Linked DNA regions of Homo sapiens: regions 2, 3, 4 and 5 are each linked to region 1. Evidence: fine-mapped expression QTL. A gene starts in region 1. Each other region holds a variant in brackets. All regions are shown on one strand. Distances are from middle to middle.

Region 1 (6,540 bases):
GACCCCAGAGAGCTCATTTGACCCTTAAGCCATATGAGGTTAAAGTGAGAACATGGCTATGAGGAAGCATGTCCTCACCAGACACTGAATCTGTCAGAGTCTTCATCTTGGATTTCTCTGCCTCCAGACTGTGAAAAATAAATTTCTATTGTTTATAAGCCACCCAGTTTGAGGTATTTTTGTTATAACAGCCCGAATGGACTAAGGCAAATAGTAACAGAATATAATCCGCGAGCTCCCCTTTCTGGTCTCACTTCGGCTGGATGTGCTTAGACTCTCCTATTTCCCACTCAAGCCAGTGCTTCGGGCAGGTGGGCTAGTGACTTTTTCCGAATAGACTAAGGCAAATAGTAACAGAATATAATCCACTAAACACACACACACACACACACACACACACACACACACACACAGACTCCATGTAGATGTCAATAAATGATTAAGAGTTTAGTGAGGAACAAGATATTTACATAGTTTCAAAGTACATGGCAAAAACAATTAAGTATTAACTTTACAGTGGAGAAGCCTCGCAGATATTACTTATATCAAGTAATCAAAGTAAAAATAACCAACAATGAAACAAAGTGAAATTGTGCACCACCTGACAGGATGCAGTGAGCATCACTTCTGTGATATCCTTCCCACGTGCATATTCGTATGTATCTAATCATGAAGGAACAGACAATCCCAAATTGAGGGGGCAGCCTACAAAGTGACTGACCTGTAATTGTTAAATATGTTAAGGTCATGAAAGTCAGGAGAAGATAAAGGAAATGTTCCAGATTGAGGGAGACAAAAGAGACATAACATGAATGCAACACATATTGCTAAACTGGATCCTTTTGCCAGTAAAGAGATTACTAGCACAATCAACAAAACTTGAACCAGTCTGAGAACTAGATGGAGTACTGTATCACTATCCATTTCCTGTTTTGGTTATTACACTGTGATCATGTAGGAGAACATTCTTGTTTGCAGAAAATGCACATTAAAGTATTCTGGGATGACAGGGCATCAGGTCAACAGCTTCCTCTCAAATTGTTGGGGGGCGGGTAGAATTTTTTGTACCATTCTTGCAACTTTTTTGCAAGTCTGTTATTGTTTCAACATTGTTGGCCGGGCGTGGTGGCTCAAGCCTGTAATCCCAGCACTTTGGGAGGCCGAGGCCGGTGGATCACGAGATCAGGAGTTCAAGACCAGCCTGGCCAGGATGGTGAAATCCCGTCTCTACTACAAATACAAAAATTAGCGGGCGTGTTGGCGGGCGCCTGTAAATCCCAGCTACTCCGGAGGCTGAGGCAGAGAATTGCTTCAACCCGGGAGACAGAGGTTGCAGTGAGCCAAGATCGCACCACTGCACTCCAGCGTGGGCAACAGAGCAAAACTCCGTCTCAAAAAAAAAAAAAAAAAAAATTGTTTAAAAGTGGGGAGGGGGGGAGGCGGAACAATGTCACTAAAAACTAAAGGTTAAAAAACTGATTTCCCACACTTAATCTTGATAGAAAAGAAACATCAGACTATGCCAAATTACTAGGAAATAAAATTTTGGATCCAGAAGTTTAAACATTTAAACTTTCTCTTTAACAATTGACCTCAATCAGGTCATGACTGGTGAAAGAGAAAAGAACATGAAAGGTTCCCACTAAAGGAGAGGAAGTTCTTAGGAGAGGAATAATGAAAGAGAGAGTGGACCAAGAGTGGGTAGAACAATGGTATTCTGAGCTACCAATGGCTGTAACCATCAGGAAAACACAATCTCAGCATCTCTGAAAAATGAAGGGGCTGTAGAGCTGATATCTCAAATTCCTTGCAAATGTGGGACTAGAATTGCCCTAAAATAGAAGTGGTTTCCCAGCTCAATTTGTTATTACATTATGCTTAGCTACATAGTAATACAAGAGAATACAAATACAGAAATAAACGTGCATGAACCCTGAATTCTCTTAAGTTGTGGAAGTCCGTCAATTAAAGTGTAAAATACAATGCATTTGCCCAATTGTTCCTTACGACGAAAATTCTGTGACAAATAAAAAGAACAATGAAAACACATTAAAGTGAAACAAGATCACCTTCAGCGGTCAGCTGGCTGTCCTTAGTTAAAAGACAAGTCATGTCACTGTGAAGTGACCGTCACATTTGTCCTGAAAGAATAGGGAGCATTTCCTAGAAAGGGGTAAAAGTGCAAAGAATCCTGTCCCCTTCCCTGGTACCACGCGTTCCTTGGGGAGGTCACTAGGCCCCCAACAGCACAGGGGTGAGTTAGCACTGGACTCTCAGCACTTCCTTTCGGAGAGGACAACCCCCTGCGTCACTGGTTACTCACTCAGGATGCAGGGCAGAAGTTTATCCCCGAGGAACTTAGCACAGTTGGCTCCCGCCCTCCCAGCCTTGCGGTCCTGGGCCCAATCTCAGGGCTCTCTCTGCCCCGGGTACCCTGCAGCCTCCAGCGGGAGGGTCGCGAGACCCCAACTCGCCTCCGGCCCGCCCAGCGGGTGCGCCCAGGGGCTGGGCAGACGCGGCGTCTTCCCTCCCCCTACCGTCGTGCCGGCCCCCCCACGCCCACCGCCAGGCTCAGCCCAGCCGAGAAGGCCGGACGCCGACCGCCCGCTCCTCCGAGACTCGGCCTGGCCCTCCCCGACGCCCGTCCCCGACGCCCGGCCCCGCGGAGCCCACTGGACAGCGGCCGGGGGGCGGGGAGGCCCGGGGGCGGTGCCGCCCCACACCCTTACCTGGCTTCTCGTGGTCATAGCCTACCACGATGAAGTAGTCAGCCAGCCGGGCCATGGCCGCCGCCGCCGCGCTCGGGAAGCGGGTCCCCGTCGCCGCCCTCGCCGCCGCCGCCCACCCGGCCCGGGAGGGCTCAGCATTTTCCCTGCAGCGGCAGTAGCGGCAGCGGCAGCGCTTCAGCCATGTTTGACAACCGAGGCGCGCTCTGCGCTTGCGCGGCGCCTAGTGCCCGCTCCTCCCCCGCCCCCACCCGCGCTGGCTCGGCTGCCCCAAGCCCGGGCGGCGAGCCCACCTCCACCCTCCGCGGGCCTCGCGGACTGCTGCGCTGGGGGAGTGGGCGGTCGGGCGTGTTCCCGCCACGCGCCGCCACCGCGGCCCCTGGAGGTGGTTCACTTTGAGGCCTGGATGCTGCTTCACGGCCCCCTCTGCCTCCCTATTTTTCCTAAAGCAGGGGGTCCTTCCTTCCGCCTTCTCTATTCTGTTTGGATTTGGAAGAAGGGATGTGGAGAGTTGAGGGGTCACTTGGAAAGCTGGCTGCTTCCTCTGCTCCCCACCACCACCAAAGATGAAATTCTCCCGCCCTCGGTTGGAAGCAAGGAATTTGCATCGACAGGGCTTTTGCTGCACGTTTCCTGTTTATGTTGTGTAGATGGGAATTTTAGAAACATGCCACCGAGCAGACGGGGGAGGGAGAGGCTTTTACGCAATCCTCCAAGGAGCCTCGGGTTTCAATGCCGGGTGGGCCGGGGGCGGTCGGCCTGGGCTTCCCCCGGAGCGCCCGGGAGAGCCAGATTCCACCGAGGAACGCGGCATCCCCGGGATCCTCCCGAACTGGGCTGGCCTCTCCCTGGGGAGCCCCGCACGCCTCGGCTTGCTTCCCTCGCAGCGGTCCCAGGGCTCTCGCAGCCCGAGCAGGTGGACTTCCAACTTCCCTGCTCAAACATGCACAAAAATGAATAGATGGTCCCGTCCTTCCGTCTCGGGATTATCAAAGTCGCTTGCTTTTTTGTTGAACCTCCTATTGACCATTTCGAATTTGGCTGGTGTGACATTCAGGTGAACTCACTTTGTCATTTGTTAATATCTCACGAAGTTTTAGTAGAATTTGTACAAGTGGTAGACCAAAGTTTTGGAAATCTCCGTGGTTTAGAAGTTGTCTTTGTGGTTGCTTATCACTGCTCACTATTAATTGAGGGTTTGATCCTTCATATTTACACATAAGACAAGGCCTCTTAGCAAAGCGTCTAGTATATAGTAGGTGCCTACAAAATATTTTAAATGAGTAAATGTGCGATTTTCCCCAACGACCAGCAGGAAGCCGCAATGGCTCCAACTCTGAACTGAGAGAGTTGACATCTCAGCTCCTGAAGATTTACTCTGCTGTAATTTACTATTTCCCCTTTCTCTGCCACACTTGTTTCATCTACAAATTGGGAGGGTTGGGCTGCACTAGAACTGAAACTGAAGGAATACTTTAACTCCAGGACCTCTATGTCAGTTGCTAATGGTAAAACTGAATCAGCTGAATTTGCAAACGTGGAGGGAAGATAGTTTGATCCTGAAAATAATTAAACCAAAAAAAAAAAAACCTCAGTCATACCCCGTGCAGCAATCCTCTCTGTAACTTCCCTGAGAGCTCATCATCCAACTTGATCACTTTCAGTAAAAAGTAATCTTACTTCCTTGGGAGGCAGCGCATTCCACTGTTTAACAGCCCTATTGTTAGAAAGTTCTTCCTTATTATTTCAGAGTTGTCTTACTGTAACTTCCCCTGATTCTGCTCTCCGGAACTATCCAGAAAAAAAAAATCTATCTTCATATGATAGATTTTTAAGGCAGCTATCATATTCCTTCCCAACTTTTCTAAAAATAGGGCAAAATTCACATATTGTAAAATTAGCCACTTGAAAATGTAGAATTCAGTGGCAATTAAGTACATTCCCAATGCTGTACAACTACCATGTCTATCTAGTTACAAAACATTTTCATCACCCAAAAGAAAACCTCACAACCATTAAGCAGTCATTCTCATTCTCCCCTCCCACAGCCCCTGGCAATCACCATTTTGCTTTCTGTCTCTATGGATTTACCTATTATGAATATTTCATATTCATATCATACAATATGTGGGTTTTTTGTGTCTTGGTTTTTCTCACTTAGTATATTGTTCTCAGCTTGTTTACGGGCAGATACAGTACAAGGTTGTAGCATCACATTGAAGTATCAATACTTCATTATTTTTTATGACTCAATAATATTCCATTGTATATTGTGTTAGACTGTTCTCACGGTGCTAATAAAGACATACCCGAGACTAGGTAATTTATAAAGAGAAGAGGTTTAATTGACTCACAGTTCCACATGGCGGAAGGCAAGGAGAGCAAAGCGGCAGACAAGAGAGCTTATGCAGAACTCTCCTTTATACCATCAAATCTCATAAAACTTATTCACTATCACCACAACAGCAGGAGAAAGACCCGCCCCCATGATTCAATTACCTTCCACCGGATCCCTCCCATGACAGGTGGGAATTATGGGGTACAATTCAAGATGAAATTTGGGTGAGGACACAGCCAAACCATATCATATGTATATACCATATTTTGTTTATCTGGAACAACCCATATGGACATATGGGTTGTTTCCACCTTTTGGCATTGTGAATAGTGCTGCTTCAAACATGCATGTACATGTATTTGAGTACCTGTTTTCAATTTTGGGGATATATTCTTGGGATTGGAATTACTGGATTAAGTAGTTCTGTTACTACTGTTTTCCACAGTGGCTGCATCATTTTACATTTTCACCAGCAATGCACTAGGGTTCTGATTTCTCTGCATCTTTGTCAACTCTTGTTTTCCTGTTGTTTATGTTTTGTTATAGCTATCTTAGTGTGAAGTGATATCTCATTGTGGTCCTGTTTTGCCTTTCCCTAAAGACTAATGATGTTGAGGATCTTTTCATGTGTTTATTGGCCATTGCTAAATCTTCTTTGGAGAAATGTCTATTCAAGTCCTTTGCCCATTTTTTAATTGATTCTTTGTCTTTTTGAGGTTGAGTTGTAAGAGTTCTTTATATATTCTGGATACTAGTCCTTGTCAGATATATGATTTGCAGATATTTTCCCATTCTGTACGTTGTCTTTTCATTTTCTTTTTAAAATTGTTATGCCCTATTCCCCCCCCCAAATATTTCCTATTTTTATTTTATTTTTCATTTTATTTTTATGTAGAGATGTTGTATCATGATGTTGCCCAGGCTGGTCTTAACCTCCTGTCCTCAGGCAATCCTCCCACCTAGCCCTCCCAAGGTACTAGGATTAGAGGCATGAGCTTCCACACCCAGACTTCATTTTCTTGATAATGTCCTTTGGCTCAAAAAAGTTTTTAATTTTGATAAAGTCCACTTTTTTAGTTTGTTTCTATGCTTTTAGTGTTATATCTAAAAAATTATTGCCATATTAAAGGTGAGATGAAGATTTACTGGTTTCCTTCATAGTTTTAGCTCTTTAGTACTTTGACCCATTTTGAGTTAATTTTGTAGTGGTAAGGGGTCTTGTTTTACCTTTTAAATGTCTTGGCTTTTATTTCATTTGCAAGTACTCATTTAAATTATTTTAATTTTTTAAAATCAAAGTTTATTGTTTTTAAGCCTAGAATCAAATGCTATTCTGCTTTTAGGCATATTTCATCTGTTACTGTCATAAGTAGACTTCCAGTCCATTTGCAAATGCCCATTTTGTCACACAGAGATTTTAACATATCCTAGGTACATGTAGAAAGGCACTGTGTGTTTGTATATACATGTGAACAT
Region 2 (6,540 bases), 440 kb before region 1:
AGAGTAAGAAGAGCTTGGAAGAGGAATTGAGAATGGGAAGAGAAGAGGAGCTGCCTGAAGGAGCATGAGGAGAAGAATTTATGCGAGCTCGAACTACCAGGATGTTGCGGCACCCATCACTGAAGCTCTAAGGATAGAATTTCACTACTGTTGGGTTGATAAGTTCATTTATTCACTCATTTAATCATCTGTTCAACCAAATATTTATTGAGTACTATATGCAAAGACACTAGGAATACAGCAATGAACAAAACTGACAAAGGAAACATAACAAGCAAACATATGAAAATAAATCAGGTTGTAAAAAATGACATGAAAGACAATGCAAAGTAGGAGAGGGAGAGGTATTATTAAGATGCAGAAGTCAGGAGGGCTTCTTGAGGCAAGTAACATTTGAGCAGAGACCTAAATAAAGTGAGGAAGTGATTCTTGGCCTGTTTAGGTGAGAATATTCCAGAATGAAAATACCAGTACAAAGGATGTGAGGCAGGAATATGCTTGGAGTGTCTGAGGATTAGCATGAGCAGGGAGACCAGTTTGGTTGACAGAAGAGTGATAGGAAATAGGGGGTCAGAGCAGTAGCCAGAGGACGGATTCCGTTAGGCCTTGCAGGCCATGGTAAACACTGGGTTTTAGTTTCAGTGGTATGAGAAGTTACTGGAGGGTAGAGAGGAAGGCATGGTTGAGGGTATGACTACAAGGTTGAGGAAAAGGAGGGCTGAGAAACAAACAGCCACTTTTGCAAGAAGGTGCTCACTAATTTCTTTGGAATGATTTCTGTAAATTGCTTTGGCAGACAGTAACTGAAGGGCTGGATCAGTAATGGGTGAGACATTTGGAAAAATTAGGTCATAAAAAAGAAGAAAGTGTGGGAAGTGGTTAAGAATAGTAGGATGAAGTGAATCTTTTAGAAAGAAAAGCTGAGCAAGTCCAAAGGTGAGGAAAAATGGTTAACTTTTGAAATATGTACAGCAGTATTTGCTCAAAATGTTTAATATTATCTGTCAAGCCAAGACTGGCCCCAAGAAGAGTAGGAGGAGGGTCTGTGTGTTCACATTTTGGTACCTGTTTGTGACAATGCTGTTGCTTCCGCTCTCCCAGTCACCTGGCGCTGATGTTCTTAGGAGCTTGTTTTTACTTGTGTCGAGTGGAACTAGCAGGTTCACCATGAGGTTTGCAAAGTGAATGGCCTGACTAAAGACAGTGCTTTCCTCATGTTGCACTAGCTCTTGCTGAGTTGACTTGCTCAGGGTAGGCCAAAGGCGTAGTTGCTCAGCTGCCAGGTCCATTGCTGTCTTCTCCTGATAATGGTCATCAGGAAGCTTATCCTAAAAAATAAAGCAACACAATCCAAAAGAGAACCATCACTTCAGGTGAGCTTAAAAAACATAGATTTTTTTTTTTTTTTTTTTTGAGACGGAGTCTCGCTCTGTCACCCAGGCTGGAGTGCAGTGGCACGATCTTGGCTCACTGCAAGCTCTGCCTCCCAGGTTCACGCCATTCTCCTGCCTCAGCCTCCCGAGTAGCTGGGACTACAGTCACCTGCCACCACGCCCAGCTAATTTTTTGTATTTTTAGTAGAGACGGGGTTTCACCATGTTAGCCAGGATGGTCTCGATCTCCTGACCTTGTGATCAGCCCGCCTCGGCCTCCCAAAGTGCTGGGATTACAGGCGTGAGCAACCGCGCCCGGCCTAACATAGATGTTTTAAATAACTATTCTATTAAATGCTTAAATCAGCAAAAATGAAAACATAAACATAACATAACAACCACAAAACAAAACCTAGTCTTCTTTCCCAGATCCAACAGGCCTTGAGTGGAACTATGTGACAAACCTCAGGAAGCAGCAGCAAAGCACCTTATAGCTTGTGAAGAGCTGGTATGTCTATGGTCTCACTTGTACCTAACCTAGGGCTGGCTCCGGGATAGACTTCTTTAGAATGGCTGACAAAGAAGCAGTGACATGTGTTTGCTCTATGAATGCTTTCGAGATGTGTCAATATTAACATTACATCTGCTTAAAAAATGATCAAAAGCACCCCCGAAGCCCAGTAAATTTCTGGAGTAGAATGATAATCAGCCGTTAAGGCTGCTTTAAGTTCAATTCATGAGGATGATAGTTTCTAACACTTATTATTACTGCATACCATGTACTCTTCAATGCACTTTATATATGAGACACTAAAATCTCATAATAATCATATCCATTTTACCAGTGAAGATATAAGGCACAGTGAAGTAACATGACTTGCCCCAAACCAGAGAGCTAGTAAATGATGTTTTAAACTTTCAGAGTATTTAAAACTACTCTTTCAAATTAAAAACAATTTTCTTGATTTTTAAATTTTTTTGATATTTTTCATAAAAATATTTTATGCTGATAAAACATAGAGAAACATGTAGAATATTCCTAGAAGAAGACCTAGATTTATTACTGGCATTTTTTTAATACAACTACCAAATTTTACATTTATTTTGGAGTTAATTAACTTTAATTTGACATTCCTCCAGGGAAGTTAGTTGCATAGAGAAGTATGCCTGTTATTTTAGGTTTGTTCTTTCTATTCAACTTCCTATAGTCATTTCCAGGAAATTCTTATTTATTAAAGTATATTAAAACAATCCTAGTGCTGAAGAACTGTATTAAGAAGTTATTATGGAAAAACATAATGTCTGAAATCAACAGAGGAAAGATATCACAGGGCTCCCTAAATAAAACCCAAATACACTGGCAGGAAGTAGCTAGAGTTTTTTTTGCCCTGGGAACATCTGCTTTCCTTAAAGCCAGAATCCTAATCCCACACAATTAGAGTTCTTTTCTTCTCTCTTACCTTTTGCTTCAGATGCGGGGCATGATTGTCTTCCTTGGCTGAGAGATAAAGGGAGCGAACCTGTT[C/T]CTGCACTGCATTGTAAAAGGTTGTCTCCCAAAATTGCTGATTTGTCCAAATGGGGTGGTCTTGTACACACGTGTAAGCAAACTGGCTGACTCCAGGGGCAAGTTTCTGTGAGAACACACAAAATACATCATCATGGGGCTGGCAGAATTATAACAGTTCATAAGGTCACAGGGGCCACAGTTAATCATAGATGAGATCAAAGGATTTCTCTAAAGAATATCGTATGGTAGTACAGGCTTAGCAATCAGCAACTTACTCCTTTTTAACTGGCAACTGTGGGCTTGCTGTTGGATCCTTGAGAGTCTCAGTCACTTTATCAAAATGGGTATTTTAGTAACAGCTAAAAATCAAAGCTGTTATTATATCAATTAGAAAATACAGGAAAAGGAGGCACTGTAGGTTTAGTGAATATTATTACAATTAGGGCATATAATAAAATCCATCACGATGTAAACATAAAACTCCAGATAATTTAACATTTCTTCTATGGCTTTAGGGTACTCTTTTTAAAGAGACAGCAACTGAAATATGAGTGAACCTACAGCTTGGCCTTACACACAGAATGAGGATATAGCATGAATTAGGGACTCAGGAGAACTGCACTTTTCCTACTGCTCATTCCAGCCCATTACCTCCCCGCCAAAGCTGTTGCCTGGCTCACATACTCTCTAGAAGACTGCCCTGGGCTTCAAGGGCATTTTCTGGTAACCAAATTTGTGCAGGGAAAGATAAACACAAACCAAACCTCCTTCCTTTCAGGGACTTCCTGCTGGGTTTCAGCGTAAGAGTAAACTTAAGAGGTGATTAACAACAGAGGGAAGGAAAATGAACTCTGCAGGCATTTAGAAGGCACTTCATATATATTTAAGTTTGTTTAGTTCCAAAACCCCTGCTCTTTTTATAACACCAAATTGTCTTTCAAAAGAACTGAAAGTAAATCAAAATAAATGAAATGCCAAATTAACTGCCAATTAGCACTTCTGTTTTCCCCTCACTTTATGATTTTGTTTCCCAAAGTAATATTCTACCTTGGAACCTCTGAAAAAAACTTGTATAACATTGCATTTTAAATTTTAATGATAATTTACATTGCCAAATTTCAGTTAGTGACTTGAGTCAACTTTCCAAAACTATTTCTGCCACCTCTAAAAGCTAAGGATGTTTCAAATTTTTAAAAATTCATAATTTTCCAAGAAAGAGTAGGTACCATTTTCAATAAACATTTTTTGGCCCATTTTATTCTTTGGAATTGAGTTCATCTGTTTTCTGTGAGTAGAACTAAAGTTTCTGATAAGTTTTCTTTCGAAGCAATTTAATAAGCTGAGTGTCTTCTCCTGAAATGCTGGACACTGAAGATGATTACTAAGGTTATATAACTGTTACACAACAAAAGTTGGTTCATTTCTTAGGGACGTATACCAGATATATAAGACATCTGGTAAAAATTACACGCTCAATACATGCTAATCTCCTTTTTGGTCTAGAACTGCATACCACGAAATGTAGTACCTGTGTAGTTAGAAGCTGGGTGGTTGTGATTTTGCCTTAAAGAGTCTCTGTGTACTACATGCCATCTGTAAGACCCTTTCAAGATAGGACTGTGTTACTGCTGCTGAGGTAACTGGCTATAACCTCAATTCTCCCTATTAAGTGGCTGTAAGTTGTGGCTATGAAGCAAAAATCAGGAGTTCTTTGAGGGTGCACAGGGATCATTGTTGGATTTCATTATGCCTATCTGCTCATTTAAGAAACAGTTACTGTCTACCTATGGGAAATCATGAACAAAATGTGTGTGGTTTTGTGAGTGCGTAAGCAGAAGCCACACACACTGAATCACAAGCTCCTTCTATACTCTGCATGAAGACACTTGGGACATGGATTACACACTTTTTCCTCCTTCATTTTTTAGTCCTTTACTGTAAGGACCAACAATTGTTTCAGTAGCAGTACACAAGCCTATTTTGAAACAGTTTTTTTTTTTTTTTTTTTGAGACAAGGTCTGGCTTTGTTACCCAGGCTGGAGTGCAGTGGCATGATCATGGCTTACTGCAGCCTCAACCTCCCAGGCTCAAAAGATCCTCCCACCTCAGCCTCCCTAGTAGCTGTAGTAGCTGGGACTACAGGTGTGCTCCACCACACCCAGCAATTTTTGTAGCTTTTTTTTGTAGAAAAATTTGAACCTGGGAGGTGGAGGTTGCAGTGAGATGAGATGGGGTTTTTGTAGAGATGGGGTTTCATCATATTTCCCAGGCTGGTCTTGAACTCCTGGGCTCGAGTGATCCACCTGCCTTGGCCTCCCAAAGTGCTAGGATTATAGATGTGAGCCCCCATGACCAGCCTGAAAGAGATTTTAAAGGCACTAAATTCAAATGAGATAAAACTGTAATTCTCAACTGCCTTTACCATGAGTATACTCAGGGCAGTACCATTTCTTACAAATGCAGCATAACATAATCAATGGCAACTCTAAAAATGTTGAAGTCTTGAAATTATATTCATATAGATAAACTCCAAAAAACTGAGCTTTTAACAAATCCTTATCAGATTCTCACAAAGTACTTTTAGGATAATCAGCATGCCAAAAAAGTTATTAATTAAACATCTTTTATTAAAACTTAACAGAGATGTACAGGAATCTGAGGGTGTAATGAAGCCCCACCTTTCTTCAGTATTTTTCACACTGATGGTGTATATTTGCTTTCCTTGGCACATTTGAGTTGACATTACAGGTTGAATGTCCCTTATCTGAAATACTTGGGACCAGAAGTGTTTCTGATTTTGGAATATCTGCATCATATTTACTGGTTGAGCATTCTAAATCTGAAAATCTGACATCTGAAATGCTCCAATGAACATTTCTTCTGAGTATCATGCCAGCCCACTACAAGTTTAGAATTTTGGAGCATTTTGAATTTTCTTTCTTCTTTTTGGAGACAGGGTCTCACTCTGTCACCCAGGCTGATGACAATCATAGATCATTGCAGCCTAGAACTCCTGGGCTTAAGGGATTCTCCCGCCTTAACCTCCTGAGTAGCTAGGACTACATGCATGTACTGCCATGCCTGGCTAATTTTAAAAAATGTTTTTTGAGGCCAGGCACAGTGGCTCACGCCTGTAATCCAAGCACTTTGGGAGGCTGAGACAGGCAGATCACTGAAGGTTGGGAATTCAAGACCAGCCTGGCCAATATGGTGAAACCCCGTCTCTACTAAAAATACAAAAATTAGCTGGGTGTGGTGGCAGGCACCTGTAATCCCAGCTACTTGGGAGACTGAGGCAGGAGAGTTGCTTGAATCTGGGAGGTGGAGGTTGCAGTGAGCTGAGATCGCGCCACTGTACTCCAGCCTAGGCAACAGAGTGAGACTCCATCTCAAAAAAAAAAAAAAAAAAAATGTTTCTTGAAACAGGTTTTCACTATGTTGCCCAGGCTGGTCTTGAACTCCTGGCCTCAAGCAATCCCCCCACCTCGGCCTTCCAAAGTGCTGGGATAGGATTAGGCCACCAAGTGTGGCCCAAATTTTTGAATTAGATATACTCAACCTGTATCTTCATGTTTATGCACAAACTAAAAGTTGAATATGCAAAAACTAATCTAAATAGTTTGAGCAAAAGTGGGACTATATATGTTCCAAGGAAGAAAA
Region 3 (6,540 bases), 29 kb before region 1:
TAAATTTAAGATTTATTTCATTATATGTGAACATTGCATCAAAAGAAAAAAAAAGTCCCCAAAATTGCATTATGGTTAATTATATGCATGCCAAACTAGTTTGGGGGAAGATACTGGTATCAATAATTTACTGTGAAATACATCCAAAAAAAGATAGATTAGTGGATGATATAGGAATCAACAGATGGAGTAATATATGATAAAACAGGTATAATAAAATGTTAATTGTACAAAGTGTAGGTAGTACTATACAGGCGTTTGGTATAAATTCTTTCAACTTCGTTGTATTTGAAATTTTTCATAATCAAATGTTGTAGAGGAAAAAAAGCCTCATCCAATCCTTCAAAGTGCAACTCAAAATAAACTACTTCCATGAGCCCTTTCCTGTCACCCTCAGCCTTCTGAACCTAGTCTTACTGTCTAGAGCACTCACCTGGCAATATGATAATTATCTTTCCACAGACATCTCATCCTTATAAAATAGACTATAAGCCTCTTAGGGGCTGCTCTCTGATGCGAGGGTAGAAAAGAGTTTAGTGATCTGTTTATTATGCTTTCTATGTATGTATAAATTATTTTATTTTATAAACCGTAACTTCCAAAAGACAACTGTCAGTCAACTAAAATGTAAATACATAGATGTATATGCATACACTACACACACACATTGAAAGCTAAAAACTTTTAACCAAGTATCCTTGATTTTTTTGAGTCCTTGATTAATGAAATATCCTATACCTGCTGAATTCAACTTAATAGTTCATCTATGCAAAAATAATTGGTTGATGCTTTCTCTAAATGTTCTGCAAAGAGCTATGACACCAGAGGTCTCAGATTCTTTACCTGAGGATAAAAGGATCCTCAGGGAGTCTATAATTTTACTACCATATAAGACGAAAAAAAAACTTGCATTAACAAGTAATGACATTCTTTAAAATTAATAAATATTTTATCAGTGTTCAATACAACATTTAATCCTAAAGAAATTGTACTACTTCCCTGTTTTAAAAAATTATATACAATATACATTTAGAATCTTAAAATCTCCTCCTTATAGATACCTTCTTTCTATACCTATTGAAGGCCAATTGATAAATCATTCAAGAATCTTCTGTTATCCTTTTAAATAAAAAAAATCAGCACAATAAATCAACATTTCAGACAAAAGAAAATAAGCACATTATTCATATTTTATATGGTTTTAATAATAATTACACATTTTTATCCCCCAAAGAAAAATTATGAAGCTGGAAGTATCAGATATAGTAAAAATTCAAGTTTTTTTTTAATTTGTGTGAATTATAATGACATAATGCTGGAAGAAACCACACTTTACTTTCTGTTTAGAGGGGTTGCCCTGACTTCCATGTATGAATGATCAAGAGAATGAATTACAGTCTTCTTAAAACCTTAATGATAACTATGGTTAATTCAAGCTACAATAGGTTAATTACTAGTATCAAGAGACATGCAGTAACTTCTACTAGAATAAACTCTGACCTTTAAATAAGTCAGAGACTCTTACTACTAATAAGTACCTAATTAAACATTAGGTTCCTTATTTATAAAGTGAAGGGTTTGTATAAAATCTCTGCTGTACTTAAGAATAGAAGCCTTTGGCTACATTAGAGAATACTCAACTCCATTCACCCGGAAAAATGACATAGAAGAATATACCATATCAAATGAAAACTTTATCCTGGCTGAAATTAAACTCTCTGGAATATATTAAACACATTTGAACATCCTTACGGAAAAGGTGAGGAAACACTTGAACAGTCCAAATTATCCACTTAAAAACGAAAAAACAACAATATCCAAAAATCCCATCATTCAAGCATTATCTGAGGAAAATTATCCAAACAGGTCTTAACAATAACCTGATAACTACAAAAATATTCATGATTTATAAAGTTAATATTAAAAAATAAGAACTACAAGATAATCCAAGGTGCTTATGTGAATGTGCTTCTGCCTTAGGTAAAGCTTACTAAGGAATATTTGTCAACAGCAGGCAGCTTGGAGATCTTCAAGCTTTACATCATCAAATTCCAAGATGGTTTTACTGCCAAACTGCCCTCTTTATAGCTCTTGAGTATTCCTTATAATGGGGAAGGAATGCTCAGCAACCATAATCTTCCTCCCACTCCTATCAGTAACTGGTACAGTGATACTTGGTCACCTTCTTCTCTAATCCAAATACTCACAATACTTCAGGGAAATAAAGCTCAGCTTCTCATTAGAAAAAATGTTGAGAATAACTGACAGAGTTATAATAAAGATCTCACCTATGTATACTAAAAATTCTTTTAGGGAAGATTATATAGGGAGATGCATGCTTGAAAAGAAAATGGGAGCAGAAGGATAGCATCTAGGCTGCCATCCCATCTTAGTATAATTGCTCATTCAATATTAATTCAATATGTATTTACCAAGGGTCTTCCATGTGCCAGGTATTTTGCCAGGTACTACAAAAAAAATGAGCAGAAAACAGTTCCTACTTTATTTATTTTTTTATTTTTGTTAATTTTTAAAATTTTTATTATACTTTAAGTTCTGAGGTACATGTGCAGAACGTGCAGTTTTGTTACATAGTTATATACATGCTACGATGGTTTGCTGCACCTATCAACTCGTCACCTACATTAGGTATTTCTCCTAATACTATCCCTCCCCTAGCCCCCCACCCCCCGACAGGCCCTGGTGTGTGATGCTCCCCTCCCTATGTCCATGTGTTCTCATTGTTCAACTTCCACTTATGAGTGAGAACATGTGGTGTTTGGTTTTCTGTTCTTAGGATAGTTTGCTGAGAATGGTTTCCAGCTTCATCCATGTCCCTGCAAAGGACATGAACCCAACCTTTTTTAAGGCTGCATAGTATTCCATGGTGTCTATGTGCCACATTTTCTTTATCCAGTCTATTATTGATGGACATCTGGGTGGGTTCCAATTCTTTGCTATTGTGAGTAGTGTCGCAGTAAACATACGTGTGCATGTGTCTTTACAGCAGAATGATTTATAATCCTTTGGGTACATACTCAGTAACAGGATTGCTAGGTCAAATGGTATTTCTAGTTCTAGATCCTTGAGGAATTGCCACTCTGTCTTCCACAATGGTTGAACTAATTCACCCTCCCACCAACAATGTAAAAGCATTCCTATTTCTCCGCATCCTCTCCAGCATTCTGTTGTTTCTTGACTTTTTAATGACTGCCATTCTAACTGGTGTGAGATGGTTATTTCACTGTGGTTTTGATTTGCATTTCTCTAATGACCAGTGATGATGAGCATTTTTTTCATATGCATGTTGGCTGCATAAATGTCTTCTTTTGAGAAGTGTCTGTTCATATCCTTTGCCCACTTTTTGATGGGGTTGTTTTTTTCTTGTAAATTTAACAGTTTCTATCTTTAAAAGCTCACAGTCAAGTGCAGAAATCGGGGGGGGGGAGAGGTGGGGGGGTATCAACACAGGGTATCTTTTTAAAATATGTCAATGAATATACAAACATACAGTCAATATAAAAAATCTAGAGAACTCAATGAAAACCACATGCAGCTTAAATTCTGTGAAACACGCCTAAATATTATGGACTTATGTGAAGAACATATATGCACCTATGTAAATAATAATAGCTGCCTTCTTTTTGAGACAGGGTCTCGCTCTGTTACCCAGGTTGGAGTACAAGTGGTGCAATCATGGCTCACCACAGCCTCAACCTCCCAGGCTCAAGCACTCCTCCCTCCTGCCTCAGCCTCTCAAGTAGATGGGATCACAGGTGCACACCACCAGGCCAGGCTAATTGTGTGTGTGTGTGTGTGCGCGCGCGCATGTGTGTGTGTGTTTTAGAGATGGGGGTCTCATTTTGTTGCCCAGGCTGGTTTTGAACTTCTAG[C/T]CTCAAGTGATCCTCTCACCTTGGTCTCCCAAAGTGCTGGGATTACAGGCATGAGCCATCATGCCTGGCAGCCCAACCTGCCATTTTTTTTAGTACTTTTTCGGCTAGGCAGAAGACCTTGCTTATCAGTTCATTTAATCCTCATAACAATCACATGAGGCAGCTACTACTCATACTTTTATCCCAGATTTACAGAGGATAAACTCAGCTCTGTAGTTAAATGATTTGTCCACAGCCACATTCCAATAGGTGGCTAAGCACAAACTCAGGTTGTTTGACGCTAGAACTTAATGCTACTTGTGACCAGTCAATCGCCATGCTACCTCATACAGACCCTCACTGCAGAATTACAGAGGAGAGGACACTATTTGTGCAATTAAAGACCTCTCGGCCAAGGACAGAGCACTGAGACTGTAAAGGACTAGGAGACACTGATCACTATGGGGAGGGGATATCCCTGCATGCAGGACAACAGGACCCAGGCTAGATACGGGTAAATGCAGATTTCCTCTGCTACTGACACTGTTTAGATACCGTGAGACATTCTGAGTATGAAGTTGAAGCTAGTAGCAAACTACTCAAAGATTAAATACAAAGTGACATAAACATTCCTTTTAAAAAAAAATTACTCTGGTGGCAATATGGAACTAGCTAGAGAAGAATTTAACTGAAAGCAAGGAAATAAAGAGATGTCTACACTTGATTAGTTATTTCCTAACAGCTATGATGATGATGACAGTGATGATGATGGTGATAACAGAAGCTCCAATTTTAACATGAGGGATATGGACCACATTTCCCAGGATAAGTTTTGGCCAAAGGAAACGTAGTTGATTTTGGCCTTTAAACGGAAGAGGGTCCGGGCGTGGTTGCTCACGCCTGTAATCCCAACACTTTGGGAAGCCGAGGCTGGCAGATGGTTTGAGGTCAGGAGTTCGAGACCAGCCTGGCCACCACAGTAAAACCCCGTCTCTACCGAAAATATAATACAAAAATTAGCCAAGTGTAGTGGCACATGCCTTTAATCCCAGCTACTTAGAAGGCTGAGGCAGGAGAATCGCTTGAACCTGGGAGGATGAAGTTGCAATGGGCCGAGATCGTGCCACTGCACTCCAGCCTGGGTGACAGTGAGACTCCATCTCAAAAATAAATTAAATTAAATTAAATTACATTAAATTAAATTAAAAAGGGAAGGGGGCTATCTCTTCTTCCCTACTTCCTCCATCCTCCTACTTGGAATATAGATGGGATGGAGCTGAGATGCTAAGTACAAAGCTAGAAGCAGCCTGGTCCAGATGGCTATACAAACCCGAAACTGTCTACACCCAGACTTTAACTTTTAAAGAAATAAGTTTCTATATTGTTTGAGACACTTAAGTCCCTATTACTGGAAGCCAAACCTCTATCCTAACAGAGTGCACTTTATAGTAATCCGAGTAAGAACTGATAAGGGCCTAAACTATGGCAGTGACTGTGAAAACAGAGGAAAAAAAAGATGTGAGAAAATTTTGAGGGAAAAAAAAACAACACTTTGAAGTGAAGGTGAGAGAGAAAGGAGTGTGGCAAGTTTCTGACTTGAGCGAATGGCCAAGGGGAAGAGGTTTGAATGAGCCAGATATGCTTGAACATGCTGCATTTTCTTTTCTTTCTTTTTTTTTGAGACAGGGTCTTACTCCTACTTGGAATATAGATGGGATGGAGCTGAGTGGCTAAGTACAAAGCTAGAAGCAGCCTGGTCCAGATGGCTATACAAACCCGAAACTGTCTACACCCAGACTTTATTCTTCTACAACCAAATTCCTCAAACACACAATCTGAACAGTAGCAGTGAAAGGGAGTTTAAGGTGGGGGTGAGGGAGAAGGGAGTAATATGGTTTTTTAGTAATATAGTAATTTACATTTTCAAAAATCTTCAGTGTTTCACTATCTTAAATGAATATTTATTCTGTTGTTCCTCTCATTTCTTTCCTCCTGTTAAAAAAATGACTTTTATTAACTCCAATCTCATGTGGATTTGGGTTTACTCACGCTAAGATTTGGTAAAACATCTGTCTCCAAAGAAAAACAAGTAACATTCTTTTCAAATTCCCTAGAAGACCGCGTAGGACAAGTATATGAAGCATTTATAAAATTCACTCCAGTCCCAACTGCTACTTTCCACTGTGAATTAATTTTCATACTATTATTGTCCAAGTTTGTTCTGACACTTGATTTCTCTCTGTAAATGTTACTAGAATTAACTTAAGCTAGGAAAAACAAAGGACATAGTTTTACCTACAAGCAGATGTCATTAACTATACAGATTTTTTTTTCCACTTAAAAACTTGCCACAAAACCACTTATTTTCTTTAAACAAGAATCTTCCATTTTAAGTTCTTAAACCTATATTTTAAATTACTATAAGGACAGAATGTTTGCTTGAAGAAAAAAAATAGAGAGATGTCAAGTTCCCAAACAATTTGTTTTCTTCAAATCATGGTATTAGTGAACCTTGTAAATTATTAATACAGTACACAAAAAGCTACAATGGATCAACGAAAAAGATGACATTTATAGAATGGTGTCATCAGTGGAAAATAGCCCTTTCCAGAAACAACACAAATTCTTTCTCCTAACTCAGTCTGTTAGGAAAATCACCAAAAGCCCT
Region 4 (6,540 bases), 320 kb before region 1:
AGGTAAAATTACTCCAAGTTAAAATAACAATGGCAGATCACCAGGAAGGGAGTGGGAGCTTACAGGGACACGAGCTGGGTAGTTATACATACATTCATATATACGCCATAAAACATGAAGTACCAAAATCTTACTTCTTCTTACATGCTCTATCAGCAGCATCTGATACAGCTTGGCATCTGTCTTCCTCTTCCATGAACACTTTCTTTACTTGGTTTCTAGGTCTTCTTGCTACATCTTTGTCTATTTCTCATCTCCCTAATCCCTTAACAATGTGAATATCTCAGGGCTCAGTCCTTGGGTCTTTTTTCTATTAACATTCATTCCTTGGTGATCACTTCCAGTCTCCTATCTTTAAACCATAAAAATACCAACAATTCACAAGTTTTTTTCTTTAAACAAGTTTTCTCCTAAACCCCATACCCACATGTTTAACTCTCTATACAATATTTTCACTTGGATTTTTTAAAAAATTCTAAACCTATGTCCAGAATGCAGCTCTTAATCTTCACCCACCTCTATCCCTGCTTTCTTCAGTCTTCCTCACATCAGTAAATGGCACATTTATTTTTTCCAATCATTTAGACAAAAAGCTTAGAGTTATCTTTAATGCCATTCTCTAACACCCAACTATCCATTCCTCTGCAGATCTTGTGGACTTGACCTTTAAAATGTTTACAACTTGGCCAGTTTCACAACACTTTGGTTCAAGTCAACACCTCACGTTACAGCAATACAACAGTCTCCTAGTCTCCCTGCTTCCACCTGTACTCCTTCATTCAACACTGCAGACTATGTGATCTAGTTAAGAGTATGTCAGTTCATCACATAACCGTTCTGTTCATTCCAATGGCTTGTCATCTCACTCACAATAAAACCCAAAGTTCTTAAAACAACTTACAACACCCTACAAGATCTGGCCTTTCTATATGATGTGTCCTGCCATGATTTCTTTCATTTTTTTCTGCTCTAGACACACAGAACTTCTTGTTCCTGACTCAAAGCCTTTGCACTTAACTGTTCTCTCTGCCTGGAATGCCTGTGCCCCATGAATCTGTACAGCATCCTCCTTCCTTTCTTGCATTTCTTAGCTCAAAAGCCACCTTTCCCAATCACCTTATCTTAAATTATACTCTCTTCCCCAACACACTCCCTATCCCTGTTATATTTTTCTCTATATCACTTATCACTCTCTCACATACTTTACATTTTATTTAACTTGTTTATTGTCTATCCTTCTCTCCATAAAATAAAGCTCCATGAGAGTAGACGTATACCTACTGCATCTAGAAACTGCCTGGCACACAGCAGGCACTCTAAAGCTCTTCCCACTGCATCTTAATGAGGGGGACACAATGCTGAACACACATAAGGATTGCAAGAATTGAATTAAATGTGTCAGCTAATATTTTTGTAGACTCTTTGGGTTGGCATGAACTTTTTAGTCATCTAGTTAAGCAGGATTAGATCTCAAACACTCCAGGTAGAATGGAATCCATTCTTTCATAAAGTTCTCTAGGGAAGGCTGCTTTACAACTATTCTTGACCAATTCTAACACTTATTCTTTGCGACCAGAAAATTCCTTATTCCCACTGAACTTATGTTATTCATGCTGTAGATTAAACTCAATACTATCCCATATATCCTATTTTTTTTTTTTTTTAGACGCAGTCTTGCTCTGTCGCCCAGGCTGGAGGGCAGTGGCGTGATCTCGGCTCACTGCAAGCTCCACCTCCCGGGTTCACACCATTCTCCTGCCTCAGTCTCCCGAGGAGCTGGGACAACAGGGCCCACCACCACGCCCGGCTAATTTTTTGTATTTTTAGTAGAGACAGGGTTTCACTGTGTTAGCCAGGACGGTCTTGATTTCCTGACCTCGTGATCCACCCGCCTCAGCCTCCCATACATCCTCTTGACACTTAAAATGGCCAACTGCCATCACTTCTTAGGGCTGCTCCCCACAATTCTTTTTGGTTATATGGCCCAGACCTAGATAAAGAAAATGTTGGGCTAAGGCAGATGATATAGCTAGTATGCCTCAGCAATATAATAGAAACACACTGCTTCCTCCCACTGCCGTAAGTGTCAAAACACATGGGTTCCAGTTCTTGCTCTAGTCCTTATTATGTGATGCAGGGAAAACAACTTTGCCTAAGTTATATAATTAAGCTTATCTTATATAAGGCTCCTCAGAAGGTGAAATCAGATTTAAAATCTGTTCTTGCCAAAGCAGCTCTCATACATGCTCTGTATTTCCCCCCATATCTAGCAAAGACAGGGAAAAATAAGTAAGTAAATCCTTAGTCCAACTCTTAGTAATCACTCTTTCTAAACCAAATGTTGAAAAAGTGTTTTACAATTCTGTCTGGACTTAACACCAATGTCACTGGCCTGTAGTGTCTAAAACTGCCCTTTTCAAAAAGTAGTGTTTTTGTTCTTCTCTGTTCTTTAGGCATGACTCTTACTCATATACTGTCTTCCCAAAAATAATAAATATCAATTCTCTAAAACATATTGGGTAGGTATCTTTTTTTTCAGGCTGGCCAGGTAATTCAT[A/G]TGGATCTTGAGGTCTGAATTATTTAAAGTATATTCATTACTTTGGTTTCTATCTATATTTTCTTTATAATAAAAATTAAAACTCTAAATATATTTCCCATGAAGTAAATATTTATAATAAAATTTAAAACTTGGAAAAATAAAAGTAGAAATAATCTTAGTAACACCAGTATTTTTTCTAGTTATATATATATATTTTTCTCTATTGTTATATTATCTGTCTTCTGTCTTTTTCCAAAAATGACTTGGGGTGGTTTAGAAAAAGCAGGATGCATTGGCCAGGCACAGTGTCTTATGCTTATGTAATCTCAGCACTTTGGGAGTTCGGAGTGGGCAGATCACTTTAGTCCAGGAGTTCAAGACCAGTCTGGGCAACATAGTGAGACCCCATTTCTACAAAAAAATAAAAAATTAGCCAGGCATGGTGGTGCCTGCCCATGGTCCCAGCTACTCAGGGGACTGAGGGAGGAGGATAGTTTAAGCCTGGGAGATGGAGGCTGTGGTGAGCTGTGATTGCACCACCACACTCCAGCCTGGGTGACAGAGTGAGACCTTGTCTCAAGAAAGGAAAAAGAAAAAGAAAAAGAAGGATGCACATATCACTTCTAGTCAAAATCTCTAAAGAGTTGGTCCTATAATTTGGTAAGTTCATCCTAAACTTCATAGGGACATACAAAGACCAAAAATAGTCAAGGAAATTCTGAAGAAGAGTTAAGTGGGAGAGTTAAGATTTCCAGATATCAAAACTTACATAAACCTTTAATAATTAATACAGTACAACAACTGTTATTAGTGAAGGGTTAAAAGGATGAATGGAATAGAATAGAGAGCCCCAAAACAGGACTATGTGAGAAAATATGATAGAGATAGGTGGCATGACAATTCAGGGGGAAAGGTTAGACAATTCAATGAGAGGTAGTATAACAAAGTATTTTTAGTTCATGATCTCTGATTTCAGAACGCCTCGTTTCAAACTCTAGCTTGGCCACTTACTAGTAGTGTGACCTGGTGCAGTGTCAATTCACTTACCCCATGTGTTGTAGTTTTCACATCTGTAAGGAAGATAATAATATAGTACCTACTTCATAAGGTTCTTATGAGTATTGAACGAGCTGTTACAGTAAAGCTGTTAGAACACACAAACACACACACACACACCACCCCAGAATGAATCTAAAGGCTGTTTTCCAAAAATTTTGGCTACATTCATTTAAAAAATATGTATTCTCTTATTCTCTGCATATTCTATGGCATGGTACCATGCTTCTATAACTAAAGCCATCTCTTTCTCCCAAGATTTCCAACACATTACCAACTACTTACATTTTAGTAATTATAGTAGTAGTATCCAATATGTTTTTTGTTTGTTTGTTTGTTTTTGAGACAGAGTTTCACTTTGTTGTCCAGGCTGGGGTGCAGTGGCGCGATCTCTGCTCGCTGCAACCTCTGCCTCCCGGGTTCAAGTGATTCTTCTGCCTCAGCCTCCCAAGTAGCTGGGATTACAGGTGTGCACCACCACGCCTGGCTAATTCTTTTGTATTTTTAGTAGAGACGGGGTTTCACTATGTTGTTCAGGCTGGTCTCAAACTTCTGACCTCGTGATCCACCAGCCTCAGCCTCCCAAAGCGCTGGGATTACAGGCGTAAGCCACCACGCCCAGCCCTCCAATAAGTTTTAAATAGAGTCTTCCCAGAAGCAATTAGAAATATTGTAAACCAAATCCATACACAATTTAGAATTACAAGCATTAATTTACAAGCTTGTAAAAAAGATCATGTTAAAACAAAGTTCAAAGTTGAATATCTGTAGTTATATAGATATTCTACACCAAAATGCAGATTAGGGATTTTGTTAAATTATGATATATTTAGCTGTGTTTAGAAGATTCGAAAAAGACTTATGCCCCAGAATACAGTAATATTTGGTTTTCTGGCTCCTGAGTCTGTATACTGCTGCCCTCTAACGGGCAGCATGATAAATGTAAAGGACCACATTTGCTACCTTGAACCTAACTTGGTCGCGAAATGACTTTTGAGAAGACAATAGCAATGAGAGGAAGTTTAGGGTAGGGCTCACTGTATTCTGCATATACTTAAAAACATCTGCTTTTACTTGTAACACAAGATGTGTTTGGACTGGTCCCTTGAACGTCACCAAGCTCATTAAAAGCTACAGCCAAATTTTGTGTTGAATCTCCTTGTTGAAATAAGGAAATCCGTTATTTTCCGACAGTACAAAGCAGCAGCCAAATTTTCATCTTTGATTCCAGAGAAATGCAAATATAAAGTAATAAACAAGGGCTAGACAACTAAACACTTACAGTGAACCTGGCAACATTTTTTTCCAAAGTAACCAAAATAAACTACTGAAAAGAGTTTGGCAGAATGCACTGTCTTTTACATTTTGAATTTGGATAATGATTTTCAAGGAATGGTCTCTATAATCCTGCTTTAAGAGTATACTTTAGTAATTCGAGGTAGAATGATTTTTCTCAGACATGAAAAAGTGACATATACACACATCATCTGGTCTGCAGCACCCCTCCCCCCTGCAGCACGCCCAGCTACCCCCAGCTTTGGTAGGCTAAGTGAGAATATGCCTAGGGGTTACAGAATACAAGGCTTGAAACTAATTTCAAATAAAAGCAAAGCAAGGCACAACAAAAGCCCCAAACCCCAATGGAAATTCAAAGTAGGCAACAGCCACCTTGGGAAAAAGAAAATTTTTCCTATGTATTGGTCTCAGCACTGAAAGACAAATCAATATGATATTGTTAGAGCTTATCAAGTTTCCCAGATTAATTCAAGTATTTGAAATTATTTAACGTGCACAAATTATACTTAGAGCTATGTGGGATAGCAAGTGACACAAATTTTTTTTCTAATACAGTTGATGGCAATACTGTCACTGGAGTAAATTGTTAAACATTGTCAAAACGTAACTGGACTCTTTAGAGTTGCCTGGTAGTGTACATGACATTGATGGAATGACTCATCCTCAATTTTCCAACTTCATAGGACTTTCAAGGATCACATCCTTGTGAGATGACTGAGACATTCAACTGAATGTCTTATCCTTAATACAAGTAGATGACTTTAATATTTGATATGCTGGTTGCCCTAATTCAGGGTTTCTCAACCTATGCACTAATTGACATTTGGGCTTGATAATTATTTGCGATAAAGAGTAGGTGTCTTGTGTATTGTAAGATGTTTAGAAGTATCTTTGGCCTTTATCCACTAGATGACAGTAGCACAGTCCCTCCAACTGTGACCACCAAAAATGTCTCCAGACCAATTTCATGAAGTAGGGTGGGAGGGTTGCTCCTGTTGAGAACCACTGCTCTAATTCATGACTCCAGATAGAGATTTCCTATTCTAAGACAAGTACTCTTGTCACAAGTACGAAGGCAACATACAGTGACCAGCTAACAGTCCTATACTCTCACTCACCTGCTGAAATACAAATTAGAATCACAATGAGATACCACCACATACCTGTTGGAAAGGCTAAAACAAGACACCCCCAACACCGCCCAAAAAAAAAAAAAAAAGAAAAGAAAGAAACCAGCCGGGTGCAGTAGCTCATGCCTATAATCCCAGCACTTTGCGAGGCCGAGGCGGGTGGCTCACGGGAGTTCGAGACCAGCCTGATCAACATGGAGAAACCCCGCCTCTACTAAAAATATAAAATTAGCCAGGTGTGGTGGTGTATGCCTATAATCCCAGCTACTTGGGAGGCTGAGGCAGGAGAATCGCTTGAACCCAGGAGGCAGAGGTTGTGATGAGTCAAGATTGTGCCATGGCACTCCAGCCTGGGCAACAACAGCGAAACTTTGACTCAAAAAAAAAAAAAAAAAAAAAAAAAAAAGAAAAAAAGAAACCAACTGACAATACCAAGTGTTAGTAAAGATGTGGCACAAATGGAATGCTAATATACTGCTGGTGAAAATGCAAAATAACGTAGACACTTGAGAAAACAGT
Region 5 (6,540 bases), 39 kb before region 1:
CTTAATATGCAGACAAGACTGAAAACCTAACTTAGGAGTATGTGTCTGTAATAATAGCTAAATCTTGGCCAATCCCATCGGCCATACTTCAACCATTCATAGACTGCTGAGTGTTAAAACTGTGTTCAAATAAGGCAAACGCTGGCCGGGCGCGGTGGCTCACGCCTGTAATCCCAGCACTTTGGGAGGCCAAGGCGGGCAGATCACGGATCACGAGGTCAAGAGATCGAGACCATCCTGACTAACACGGTGAAACCCCGTTTCTACTAAAAATACAAAAAATTAGCCGGGCATGGTGGCAGGCGCCTGTAGTCCCAGCTACTTGGGAGGCTGAGGCAGGAGAATGGCGTGCACCTGGGAGGCGGAGCTTGCAGCGAGCTTGCAGCGAGCTGAGATCGCGCCACTGCACTCCAGCCTGGGCAAAAATGCGAGACTCTGTCTCAAAAAAAAAAAAATCAAAAAAAAGAAAATAAGGCAAACACTGAGCTGTAACCAATCCAGCAGTTCTGTACCTCACTTCCGATTTCTCTATGTCATTTCCCATTTTTTGTCTATAAATCTTCTTCCACCACGTGGCTGCACTGGAGTCTCTGTGAATCTGCTGTGATTCTGGGATCTGCCCAGTTAGCAAACTGTTCATTGCTCAATTAAACTCCTTTAGATTTAATTCAGCTTAAGTTTTAACATGGGAAAAACATATTGACAGACAACTAGCAACCTCCACACAAGAGGTAAATACCAAAAAAAAAAAAAAAAAAAAAAAATCAGCTTTAGAAGTTTCAGAATTTGCCTCTAGAGAAAAGAAAAATGATAGCAGGAATTAGAGCGTAGTGTTAAGGAATACTAGTTTCTATAATATGCTTCTACAGATCTGACTTTTTAAACTATGTGCATATATAATATAATGAAAATAAAAAGAGTTATGAGAGAAAGGAAAGCAGAAATGAGCCACAACTTGTTTCTGAAAGCCTGTCTTTTTCTTTTTGGGAGGAGATGCAAGAGATAGACGTAAGAACTATATAAAATCAAAAGTAAACCCTGTCTGCACATTAGTACTCTTTAAGACAGTGATTTTAACTGCTTGGAAACGCTTTTCTTAATTTCTTTTTGTTCCTGGATATATCCCTGATTCTGTGGAGAAACAGAATATTATGGCAAAGAATCTCTAAATCACAGACTCTACCAATACAAAACTACAATGATTACTTTTGGGAAGTCTGCATTACTTTTTGCTAAAAGGGGCACTTTTTCTCATAAAGGAAAAATCACCGCCCTGATTTTTCAATTTAATATCTCAATTGCCCTGAGATATTACTATAATGAATCACAGTATAATTTAGTTTGTCAGTTATTAATACCATAATTCACACATTAGGAATCTCCAAATCTCCAAAAAAAAACAAAAAGGCCTTCTTTGTTCTTCTGCCCCCTTATCACGCTGATCCCAGATAAAAAGCCTAGGTAAGCACTGAGTGAAAAATAAATCTGGCCACAAGATACATGAAAAAATATTCAACATCGATAATAGTATGGGAAATGCAAATTAAAACCACAGTGAAATATTACCTCACATCTGTTAAATAGTTATTATCAAAAAGATAAAAAATAGCAAGTGTTGGTGAGGATATAGAGAAAAGGGAACCCTTACACACTGTTGGAAGGAGTGTAAATTAGTACAGTTATTATGGAAAACAGTACGGAGGTTGCTCAAACAATTAAAAATACTCAGGTATGGTGGCTCATGCCTGTAATCCCCACACTTTGGGAGGCCCAGGAGGGAGGATCACTTGAGCCCAGGAGTTTGAGACCAGCCTGAGCAACATAGTAAGACTCCTAGCTCTACAAAAAATAACAATATTTTAAAAATTAGCTGGGCATGGTGCTGTGTGACTGTGGTCCCAGCTACTCAAGAGGCTGAGGTAGTAGGACTGCTTGAGCTCAGGAGGTCGAGACTGCAGTGACAGTGCACTCCAGCCTGGGCAACAGAGCGAGACCCTGTCTCAAAAGAAAAAAAAAAAAAAGAACTACCTATATGATCCAACTATCCCACTACTAGGTATATATCCAAAGAAAAGGGAATCAATATCTCAAAGCGATATATGTGCTCACATGTTCATTGCAGCATTATTCACAGTAGTCAAAGATATGGAATCAACTTAAGTGTCTATCAACAGATGAATGAATAAAGAAAATGTGGTATACATACACAATTGAATACTATTCAGCCTTTAAAAAAAAAAAAAGAGGATGGGCACCGAGGCTCACGCCTGTAATCCCAGCATTATAGGAGGCTGAGGCGGGTGGGTCACTTGAGGTCAGGAGTTCAAGACCAGCCTAACCAGCATGATGAAATCCCTATTAAATATATTAAAAAAGTTAGCTGGGCATGGTGGTGCATGCCTGTAGTCCCAGCTACTCAGGAGGCTGAGGCAGAACAGCTTGAACCCAAGAGGTGGAGGTTGCAGTGAGCTGAGATTGTGCCATTGCACTCCAGCCTGGGTGACAGAGTGAGACTCTGTCTCAAAAAAAAAAAAAAAAAAAAAAAAAAAAAAAAAAAAAAATCCTATTATTTTCAAAAACATCAATGAACCTGGAAGACATGATATTAAATTAAATAAGCCAAGAAGAGAATGATCTCACTTATACATGGAATCTTAAAAAACTGAAACTCACAGAAGCAGAGGGTGAATGGTGGTTATCAGGGACTAGCAGGTGAGAAGGATTGAGGAGATGGTCAAAGGACATAAAACTTCAGTTAGCCAAAAGAAAAAGTTCAAGAGAACTATTGTATGTCATGGGGACTATAGTTAAAAATAATATACTGTATTCTTGAAAAGCACTAAAAGAGTAGATTTTAAGTGTTCTCAGTATACAAAATCAGTAAGTTAATGTATATGTTATTCAGCTAGATTAGCTATTTCTCAATGTATACATATTTCAAAACATTATGTTGTACATGATAAACACACATAAATTTTATTTGTCAATTAAAAATAAAAATCTTTAAACAAAAGAAAAACAAATCTACTGGTTTGTCAAGTTCTTTGGGGGAAATGGTTATAAATATTTGAAATATAAATAAAGGAGAAAAAACAGAAACACATGGTAGCAAAAGTAAATAAGTTACTGTCA[G/C]TTCTGTGAAGATACATTATCCTCCAGATATTCGTTTTACATAAACAAAAGTGGTAGAGCAACACTGAACACTATTAGGCTTTCCTAGTGCAGCTGCATCAATATTTTAATGTTTACTTAGATTGACCATAATAGTTCCTCTTTTTCTAACTTTTTCACATTTATTATCTCTGACCATTTCTAAATACTATGAACAATGACCTAAAAAAGCATTTTTGCTGAATCAAAAAGTCAGTGTGACTAATTCAAATTATAGAAAGAAAATGGTCATCCATAAAATTAAGAGTTACCTAAGATCATACATAGCTAATGAATGGCAAAGATATAAAACCAGGTCTCTTTACCCCATTACTGAGGAAACTATGTCAAAACAGGAAAGAAGCACAACTTTAGTCATGTTTCCCTGGTCAACAGCGCCACAAGCAAAGTCCCTGTTGCTCCCACCTGTCAAATCAGTCAACACCATTCACATCAACTAAGTAAATTATTGTGCTTTACTTACAGGGTGTATTACACGAGATGGGCTCTTTCCAATTGCCAAACTATATGCAGACTCATTTGAGCTACTTCATAAAGAAAATTTAGTATAAGAAAATGTGGGGGAATATGAAAATATAAGAAAAATCTCCACAATCAGGCTTCACTGACAACTGCAGCACTGGCCAGGATAAAATAAAATTGGTTCCCAATAGGAAGGAATTCTGGTTGATTATTGTCAAAATTTAGCTTCCCAACTCTGCCCCTATTATGACTGTAGTTTTATTTTACTCTCCACAATAACTACTCTCTTTCTACTACATGATTTCTACTGTCCTGCAGCTTCTGCTTACTACATTCTCTGATATCTCACATTGAAATTCCCTAAGAAAGATAAGATTGATTTAATTCATCATTTACAGAGCTATTGGACAGAGTTCCTGGGCCAGGCCAAGCTATAAGCCACTGGCCTACCTATATATCACTGATGCCAGTTCCTGGTCCAGGTAATTGTGGCAAAGAAGAATGGCTTCATAACAAAGCATAACAACTGATACAAGCCCTTGAAGCCGCATTAGTCAGAAATGAGCTATGGTTGTAGCTTCCACTAAGAGCACTGTTTGCCCATATACATTTGGATTATAAACCAAAATCCTCATTAGATAAATTCAGACTTAAAAATCTGGCCTACCCTCTCCAGGGTATAGTCTCATACTGTCACCCCTATACACAATACTCCTTTCACAGCAGATCCAAAACAGCAATCTCATCTCACACCAGCCCCCATAATTTCTACTCCTGACCTGGAAAACGTAATAGCATCTCTCTCATCAAAATCTTTTCTCTAAATTGAAATTTTCCTTTGACCCAGTATTTATCCCATATTTATCCTATAACGAAGTCTGACACAAGAATTATGCTAGACGAAACTATTCAGATGAAAGATAATTATTTATTATAGAAGAATGATTGTACTAACTGGTACATCCAAACACTTCCTAGTAAAAATACAGGTAAATTTTACTGATCACCATTTATTAATTATTCACCACGTCAGGCACTGAGCTAAGCACTTGACAGGAAACATCACGCATTAGCAAACTCAGGCCCAGAAAGGTTAAGTTCTTATCCAAGATCACATCTAATAAATAGCACAACTGAAATTCAAACTCTATCTCTGTGATGCCAAAGTTCATGTTTTTAACAATTATCCCATACTGTCAATGACTGCAAAGTACAATCATCAACAGGATTTTATAGCATTGACTAATCCTACCTCTTTCCCCACAAAAAAATCTTCCAATGTGCTCTAATGCAATGATTCCCAAAACACTATGCAGTGAGATATCATACAGTAAGAAAGTTCTATGACCAAATAGGCATAAGAAATGTTACAGGCCAGGCTCAGTGGCTCACGCCTGCAATCCCAACACTTTGAGAGGCCTAAGTGGGAGGACCACTTGAGCTCAGAAGTTCAGGATCACCTATTATCAGTAGAAACCTTGTATCTACTAAAAATTAAAATTAAAAAAATAGGCATGGTTGTGTGTGCCTCCACTCTCAGCTACTCAGAAGGCTAAGGTGAGAAGATCACCTGAGCCCAGGAAGTAGAGGCTGCAGTGAAATACGATAGCATCACTGCACTCCAGCCTGGGTGACAGAGTGAGGCCTTGCCTCAAAAAAAAAAAAAAAAAAAAAAAAAAGAAATGCTGTACTAAAAAGAGCTTGGTCAGGCACAGTGGCTCACGCCTATAATCCCAGCACTTTGGGAGGCCGAGGTGGGTGGATCACTTGAGCCCAGGAATACGAGACCAACCTGGGCAACATGGTGAAACTCTGTCTCTATAAAAACTAGAAAAATTAGCCAGGAGAGGCAGGAGGACTGCTTGAGCCCAGGAGGCAGAGGTTGCAGTGAAACGAGATCGCGCCAGTGCACTCCAGCCTGGGTGATAGAGCAAGACTGTCTCAAAAAAATAAAAATAAGTAAAAATAAATTTAAAACAGAGCTCAAACTTCTATATTGTAGGACATATCAGAATTTTTAACATGCCAATCCAAACTATGAATCTCTAAGAGGTATAAATACACACACATACACACACACACACACACACACACACACTTTTTTTTTTTTTTGAGACAGGATCTCCCTCTGTCACCTGGGCTAGAATGAGTGGTGCGATCAAACCTCATTGCATCCTCAAACTCCTGGGCTTAAGCAATCCTCATGCCCCAGCCCCCAGAGTAGCTAGGACTATAGGTATGCACTACCACATCTAGCTAATTTTTTATTTTTATTTTTTAAAGGTAGGGTCTCTCTATGTTGCCCAGACAGGTCTGAAGCTCCCAGCCTCAAACAAACCTCCCACTGTGGCTTCCCAAAGTGCTGGGATTTACAGGCATAAGCCATTGTGCCCAGCCAAGAGGTAAATAAGTAAAGATATTAAGCAGAGTTTCTCATAATTATTTAGCTGAAGTTACCACTCTTCACAGGCCATTGCCTGGAACTCATGTTTTGTGGAATGCACCTTAGAAAATGCTTATCTAGTAAAAAAAAAATTTCACATGACCATCTTTTTCTTTGATAATTTCAACTAAACTAGGACAGTTACTAATCAGTAAATCTTATGATTACTGCTCATCCATACACCACTTCTAGGTGAAAATGTCATGGCCACGCTGAGGGCCAGTGACCATGTTTTGGATCATGTAACTTTACTCCCATTCTGAGATAACTGGACAGAATAGGCACCAAAGGAATATAGCCCATTCACTACATAGTCTGCCTCAAAAAGATTAGTTGGGCAAATAAGATATATCTTTAAAAATGGGAAACAAACAATAAAGCAGAGGGTCCAGAAGAGCCATATAGTGACAATAGGGCAGCAGATGGAAATCACAAAGGAGTAAGAAACTACTAATAAGCAAAGG

Alleles and levels. Positions count from the first base shown, and alleles are read on the strand shown. Sizes are in standard deviations (SD) of each study's normalised expression. Not every link is listed here.
In carriers of allele T in region 3, the expression in thyroid of the gene that starts at base 2,934 in region 1 tends to be higher than with C alone (small effect, 0.22 SD a copy in GTEx).

The links.
Region 2: its variant is fine-mapped to the expression of SBF2 in whole blood (TOPMed, PIP 0.91).
Region 3: its variant is fine-mapped to the expression of SBF2 in thyroid (GTEx, PIP above 0.99).
Region 4: its variant is fine-mapped to the expression of SBF2 in whole blood (INTERVAL, PIP above 0.99).
Region 5: its variant is fine-mapped to the expression of SBF2 in whole blood (TOPMed, PIP above 0.99).

Annotation. Positions count from the first base shown.
Region 1 is chr11:10,291,286-10,297,825 of GRCh38, forward strand. It overlaps SBF2 (SET binding factor 2), which reads right to left and starts at 2,934. Exons shown (of 40, transcript NM_030962.4): 1 at 2,730-2,934. The coding sequence starts at 2,784. RefSeq lists silencers at 2,332-2,471, 2,512-2,591, 2,622-2,901, 3,022-3,071.
Region 2 is chr11:9,855,393-9,861,932 of GRCh38, forward strand. It overlaps SBF2 (SET binding factor 2), which reads right to left. Exons shown (of 40, transcript NM_030962.4): 18 at 2,834-3,004; 19 at 1,066-1,328. The region is part of intron 1 of LOC101928008 (a long non-coding RNA gene); the gene reads left to right. Among named protein-coding and RNA genes, the nearest start is that of LINC02709, 99 kb to the left of the region's middle. RefSeq lists an enhancer at 416-515. The variant C/T (reference allele first, on the strand shown) is at 2,899.
Region 3 is chr11:10,262,057-10,268,596 of GRCh38, forward strand. The region is part of intron 1 of SBF2 (SET binding factor 2); the gene reads right to left. Among named protein-coding and RNA genes, the nearest start is that of SBF2, 29 kb to the right of the region's middle. The variant C/T (reference allele first, on the strand shown) is at 3,894.
Region 4 is chr11:9,968,562-9,975,101 of GRCh38, forward strand. The region is part of intron 13 of SBF2 (SET binding factor 2); the gene reads right to left. Among named protein-coding and RNA genes, the nearest start is that of LINC02709, 210 kb to the left of the region's middle. The variant A/G (reference allele first, on the strand shown) is at 2,558.
Region 5 is chr11:10,252,379-10,258,918 of GRCh38, forward strand. All of the region lies in intron 1 of SBF2 (SET binding factor 2), which reads right to left. Among named protein-coding and RNA genes, the nearest start is that of SBF2, 39 kb to the right of the region's middle. The variant G/C (reference allele first, on the strand shown) is at 3,133.